Linked DNA regions of Homo sapiens. The protein of the gene in region 1 purifies or fractionates together with the protein of each later gene. This does not show direct contact. Each region holds a gene or a part of one and is shown on either strand. Other genes may lie near its edges.

Region 1 (3,176 bases):
TCTCCTTGCTTCCCACCCCCAACAGGCCCCTGTGTGTGATGTTCCCCTCCCTGTGTCCATGTGTTCTCATTATTCAACTCCCACTTATGAGTGAGAACACGTGGTGTTTGGTTTTCTGTTCCTGTGTTAGTCTATATTTTATTCTTGAACTAATGCTGTTTTATTTAGATAGGAAACATCCAGTGGAGAATAGTTGGTAGGGAAAGTTTTGAGAATTACCAAATGTAAGCAAAGCTGATTTTAGAGAAATTATTCTAGATTGAAAGCCAGATCTGATGAAACCCAAAATCTCCACCTTATTCTCTACAGGATGCTGCCTCCCCCAAACAAGCATACACTTTCCTATCCTTTTGAGTAAGGACAGACACCTCTCTATGTGACTGTGTCATATTAGGAATAAGCACTTTATGATATCTGCCACCAAATAATTTTGATTGTCATGAGAATGTCTCAGGAGGAAACTGACTAAATGGACCTTAGGGAAATGAAGAGATGACATGTCAAATCTAGATACTTATTTTACTTCATCAGTTCCAATCACAACACTCATCATACATCCAATGACAATATACATATCTTCATGGGTACTACCATTTTGCAGAGGCATCATTTACTAATGCAATTATCCAATTGATTTAATGATACTAGCTTTATTCTGTGTTATTATATTCCATATTATACAATGATAGGATATTTGAAGAGACATATAATTTTGTAAGACAAGACTCATTACATGATTGTATTATTTTCTATGACATATTTAAAGAGTTTAATAACATGTATAAGTAAAAACAAATTTAGGAGAAGAGTCAAGATATTTCATGTATTCCAAAGAACTGATACTAGTATTGAGGAAGCTAATAGCCTAAAATTATATCCAAGGCATGGCCACATCTTTTTCCCTGAAAAATATAATAGAAAAGCATTTTAATATCATTGGACTGCTTTGCATAAAACATCCTAGATATCTTACAAATTGCTTATTAAAGAAATAGAAAGCTTTTCTTTCACTGGCATTCATACATACAGAAAAAAGGTCATAAAAATACTGAAATCTCTTTAGTATTTCTTACTGAATAACTTGATTTGCCTTGTACAATATAGTACATTAGTAAGGAGGCTTTCCTAAAGAGGTATTATTACTGTTCACTTGGTTGTGTTTTTATAAACTTTTTTCATCTGAAGAATGCTGCGTGCTCATTTTTATGGAAGGAGAGATCAAAAGAGGCTCACAGGCAGCAGGGAGGAGATTTCAAAAACTTTGTCTTTTAGTTTGCCCTTCAAGTTAAATTGTTTGCTTTTCAGTGTGTGTTTTTACTTTTTGGTGCTGTTCCCAGACTGCCCTTCTATCAAACTCCTATTGTGGCCTCATAGCCAACCAAGCTGATTAAAACAGGTAATTAGTTCAAGATTATGTCTGATATAAAAGTCATGGAATTTGAAATTTTCTTTTCATTGTACAATTTCTTTATCATTTTGAGATTTTTACTTAATTTCAAACTAATACAGATATATTGGAATTATTACAATGTTTACTTGCAAAATGAAATGATGATTTGGGAGAATTGATTCTGTATGGAGTGTCTATAGAATGTCTTTTACAATGGACCTAGAATATCTAGTATTTGTGTTTTCAGAGAGTATACCAAACTTATAGGCAGACATGATTCTCAAAATTTAATTTTGTTTTTAAAAATTGTTGAAGTCCATAATTATTATTAATTTTATAGGTATATATAGCTAACTTGTTTTTATAACTACTTTGGTAAGAACTCCATTAGCTCCTCTGCCAACTTTTTTCTTTTGTCTTCTTATGTAGGAATTGTCGTGGCACCTAATTCTTGACTTTGGCAAATACCTACCAAAATGTCTGAATGATCAGGGCAACTTCTTATGGTTCCCTTAGGCTGTCAGTCTTGTCCTAGTGAGAAAAGGACATTCATAAGAAACTGTTATTAAATTGAAATTAAATTATATTCTGATTAATTGATTATCAAAAACAAGTTTTGGCCACCTTATTCAGAGTTAAGACCACATATTTTTCATTAGTTATCTTCTTAATTTCATGACTAAGTCCTATAAATTAAAGCACTAATTTTATCACTGTATTTTTTCATTAGACAATTTTTTTGCATAAAGTGAAGTTTTCATGACTCTACCTTCTCTTCTGGGAGCTCTGGGGTAATAGTTTGGTCTACAGCAGAAGTGAAAACATTGGTTGTGCTGGGTTTTGGTGAAGTTGAGGGCATGAAAACTCCTGCACTGTCATGTCTAAAGTTGATCGCTTCTTTTTGTAAATATGGTATCTCTTCTCCTGTTGACTACAGAGAATGAGAATGAAAACAAAGTTGTCGTAAGTTCAACAAGAAGGCCAAAATTGGGAAGAATGTAAAGCAACAGGATTGAGATGTAACAAAAGCATTATATTAAAAAAAGAGTTGCTATTATTAGTATTTTTAGATTATAAGCTACATAAAAGACCATGAATATATACCAGCAAACATTGTCTCTTAATATCTGCTTTTAAATAAAGGTGCATCAAAGAGTACCTGGCATAGCATACTTAAAAATACTGATGAACTGAGTAAGAGTGAACTGAATCTTTACTGGCAAAATATTGTAAGAAGAAGAAGAAGCAAAAATTATTGATGGAATTACAACAGAGTTGATATTAAAATGAACATTAGTGCAGTAAGTTGTCAATTGTTGATTTCCAGTAGCTGGCAAAGTGTTGTAAGGAATCTTACCATCACAGCAATTTCAGGAGCTGTGCCTAGTTGGGGATCAAAAGCTAGTTGCTGCTGTCCTCCTGATATAGCCTAAAAACACAAAAAGTTTTAAAAAGTCTAAATCAGTGATCGTTGAAAATATGCTCTTTGGCCACCCAGAGTACCAGAGTAGTAAAACACTCCCAAACTTCTTAAATTATTTTGCTAAAAACAGAAATAATAGTTTAATTTTTGCTATTAGAGAACTGGCTTGACATCTCGCCTCTGCTTCTGTTCTGAAAGTGCTACTTTCTAACATTCTCTACTAGGACCAGGTACTTACCTGTTGAGCATAAAGAATTCTACAGAACACCAACATCAGAAGGGGTGGAAAAAACAAGACAATTTCAAAATTTTGTCTGAAGTAAGGTCACCATACAAGTTACGAAAATACCAGGTGTTCTCACA
Region 2 (3,483 bases), on another chromosome or scaffold:
GGAGCTGAGGCACCTCATGTGGTCCTCGGTGGTGTTCTACCAGACCCCAGGGCTGGAGGTGACTGCCTGCGTGCTGCTCTCCACCAAGGCTGTGTACTTTGTGCTCCACGACGGCCTCCGCCGCTACTTCTCAGAGCCACTGCAGGGTAGGCACAGGGCCTGCTGGGGCTCAGGAGCTTGGAGTGTGTGGTTGGGGCAGGCCTGGGGGGTCATTCTCTGGAGCCAGCTGTGTGGCTTCAGGCAGCAGTCAGCGACTTGGCTGCAGTGGGCTGAGAGTTCCTTGTCTGAGGAAGGGAGCTGTCATGAGGGAGGGGTCCATGGCCAGATGTGAACGCAGAATGCACTGAGCCAGGGCCTGGTGACTGCTTGGGAACAGCCAGTGATGAGAAGGGGTTAGGCAGCCTTTGCCCCTGGGGCTGCACAGGAAGCCCTAGCCAGCGACCTGGTGACTCCCCTGAGCTGGAAGAGGCTCCGACTCCAGAGGGCATTGCCTATGGGGCTTTGCACGGGTGGAAGCCAGGCCAGCCAAGAGGACCTGTTCCTGCTGGATGTGCTGCACACCTAGGAACCTTGTGCTTGCCTGCCACCGCCTCCCTCTGTCCCTTTCTCCATCACACAGATTTCTGGCATCAGAAAAACACCGACTACAACAACAGCCCTTTCCACATCTCCCAGTGCTTCGTGCTAAAGCTTAGTGACCTGCAGTCAGTCAATGTGGGGCTTTTCGACCAGCATTTCCGGCTGACGGGTGGGTGACCCTCTGTGCTTTGTCCTATTTCGGGTGAAGGCCAGCATCACCAGTGGGCTTCCACCTTCCGTACGTGGGTGGGTTATCATAGACAGTTATCTCTGTGCTCAAGAGCCACTTCTTAACCGGGGTGGGAGGAAGCAGCTTCAGGAACTGCTGAGAGAGCAGAACTCACGCTCCAGGGCTCAGAGCAGGAGGTAGGGTGTGCGGCAAGCGCTGGCCCGGACAGAAGCAGAGTGGGCCCTGGTCTCGGGCAGGATGTTTCTGACTCACATTTCCTGAGGAGAGAAAGCTAAGCTCTTTGCCTAATGTCTCTGTCTCCCCTTCCAGAAAAATGCCTCAGCTCTTCCGGCCTGAAGGAATGGCCTCCTCCCGGGCCCCATGATTCTTTCCTGTGTGGGCCCTCCTGGCCCTGGCCTCTGGGCTGAGGCTTGCTAGGGACTCGGGGTGGCTCTAAGGGGCAGGGATAGGGCTGGGGAGCGCCGGCCTGTGGCCCTGACCAGCCCCTTCTCGTGCAGGTTCCACCCCGATGCAGGTGGTCACGTGCTTGACGCGGGACAGCTACCTGACGCACTGCTTCCTCCAGCACCTCATGGTCGTGCTGTCCTCTCTGGAACGCACGCCCTCGCCGGAGCCTGTTGACAAGGACTTCTACTCCGAGTTTGGGAACAAGACCACAGGTACCCCTGTCTAGCTCAGGCTGCAGACAGGCTGCCTGGACAGACGTCATGGGCCCCAGGGTGGCTCTCTGTGCCCCAGAACCCTCTCTGCCTCTATGTCTCTCTTTTCTCACTTAGCTGGCCAGGGTTTTATGTGGGGCTTTTCGATGGCAGAGTCTCCACTCCAGCAGTCCCTCAACCATCTGGCAGACACATCTCCAGTGCCTGCTTTGGGCTCCTGGCCTGTGGGCCCCACACTTGGAGCATCCTCTCCTGCCTGTCTCATGCCGGGGTCTCTCGGTTGGCTTGGGGCCCTTGGTGCTCCCAGCCCCACCAGGGGCCGGTTCCAGGCTATAGCCCAGGTGGCATCTCTCTGCAGGGAAGATGGAGAACTACGAGCTGATCCACTCTAGTCGCGTCAAGTTTACCTACCCCAGTGAGGAGGAGATTGGGGACCTGACGTTCACTGTGGCCCAAAAGATGGCTGAGCCAGAGAAGGCCCCAGCCCTCAGCATCCTGCTGTACGTGCAGGCCTTCCAGGTGGGCATGCCACCCCCTGGGTGCTGCAGGGGCCCCCTGCGCCCCAAGACACTCCTGCTCACCAGCTCCGAGATCTTCCTCCTGGATGAGGACTGTGTCCACTACCCACTGCCCGAGTTTGCCAAAGAGCCGCCGCAGAGAGACAGGTACCGGCTGGACGATGGCCGCCGCGTCCGGGACCTGGACCGAGTGCTCATGGGCTACCAGACCTACCCGCAGGCCCTCACCCTCGTCTTCGATGACGTGCAAGGTCATGACCTCATGGGCAGTGTCACCCTGGACCACTTTGGGGAGGTGCCAGGTGGCCCGGCTAGAGCCAGCCAGGGCCGTGAAGTCCAGTGGCAGGTGTTTGTCCCCAGTGCTGAGAGCAGAGAGAAGCTCATCTCGCTGTTGGCTCGCCAGTGGGAGGCCCTGTGTGGCCGTGAGCTGCCTGTCGAGCTCACCGGCTAGCCCAGGCCACAGCCAGCCTGTCGTGTCCAGCCTGACGCCTACTGGGGCAGGGCAGCAGGCTTTTGTGTTCTCTAAAAATGTTTTATCCTCCCTTTGGTACCTTAATTTGACTGTCCTCGCAGAGAATGTGAACATGTGTGTGTGTTGTGTTAATTCTTTCTCATGTTGGGAGTGAGAATGCCGGGCCCCTCAGGGCTGTCGGTGTGCTGTCAGCCTCCCACAGGTGGTACAGCCGTGCACACCAGTGTCGTGTCTGCTGTTGTGGGACCGTTGTTAACACGTGACACTGTGGGTCTGACTTTCTCTTCTACACGTCCTTTCCTGAAGTGTCGAGTCCAGTCCTTTGTTGCTGTTGCTGTTGCTGTTGCTGTTGCTGTTGCTGTTGGCATCTTGCTGCTAATCCTGAGGCTGGTAGCAGAATGCACATTGGAAGCTCCCACCCCATATTGTTCTTCAAAGTGGAGGTCTCCCCTGATCCAGACAAGTGGGAGAGCCCGTGGGGGCAGGGGACCTGGAGCTGCCAGCACCAAGCGTGATTCCTGCTGCCTGTATTCTCTATTCCAATAAAGCAGAGTTTGACACCGTCTGCATCTTCTAAACCAAGGGTCACTGGGATCCCAGCAGGGCTTCCGTCCAGGGCGTGGTCACATGGGGGAGGGAGGGTGCCCTGGAGACAGGAGGGTGAGGGGTTGGGGGAAAGGAAGGAGCAGCCCTCCAGGAGCCAGATGCTTCTTGGAACATGGGAGGCATGACAGGGCCATGGCCTCTCTGGACAGTGCCATGCTGGGCTGTGGCTAAACCATGAGCGCAGGGCAAACAAGAAACTCCTCAGGGCACCCCTGACACACCAGCCGCTGCCCCTCTGCCTGGGTGCGGGGCATGCCACCCTCTTCAGGCTGTCCTGCAGGTCTTATGTGTCAGTCACCCCTGGGCCCAACCCCACCTGTTTCACAACCCCTGTTGAGAGTGGGGGAGGGGCGAGGAGGACAGAGAGATCCCAGAGTCTGAGGTGGCTGGTGGGGGCCGGGGCATCTCACCAAGGTGGCCCTTGAATGGCAGCAGGGGAGGTCTGTGGGGAGGTGGACC

What was found.
Region 2: the proteins of ODAM (region 1) and NISCH purify together in Homo sapiens (affinity purification with mass spectrometry; one large-scale study listed by BioGRID and IntAct). This does not show direct contact.

Annotation. Positions count from the first base shown.
Region 1 is NC_000004.12:70,201,901-70,205,076, reverse strand, and holds the end of ODAM (odontogenic ameloblast-associated protein isoform 1 precursor), read right to left. Parts: intron 2,820-3,176; coding exon 2,748-2,819; intron 2,322-2,747; coding exon 2,160-2,321; intron 1,922-2,159; coding exon 1,892-1,921; 3' UTR 1,863-1,891; exon of another isoform or gene 1,862-1,862; intron 903-1,861; 3' UTR 501-902; downstream 1-500. UniProt on the Homo sapiens protein: Tooth-associated epithelia protein that probably plays a role in odontogenesis, the complex process that results in the initiation and generation of the tooth. May be incorporated in the enamel matrix at the end of mineralization process.
Region 2 is NC_000003.12:52,490,086-52,493,568, forward strand, and holds the end of NISCH (nischarin), read left to right. Parts: coding exon 1-146; intron 147-619; coding exon 620-748; intron 749-1,266; coding exon 1,267-1,428; intron 1,429-1,786; coding exon 1,787-2,397; 3' UTR 2,398-2,983; downstream 2,984-3,483. UniProt on the Homo sapiens protein: Acts either as the functional imidazoline-1 receptor (I1R) candidate or as a membrane-associated mediator of the I1R signaling.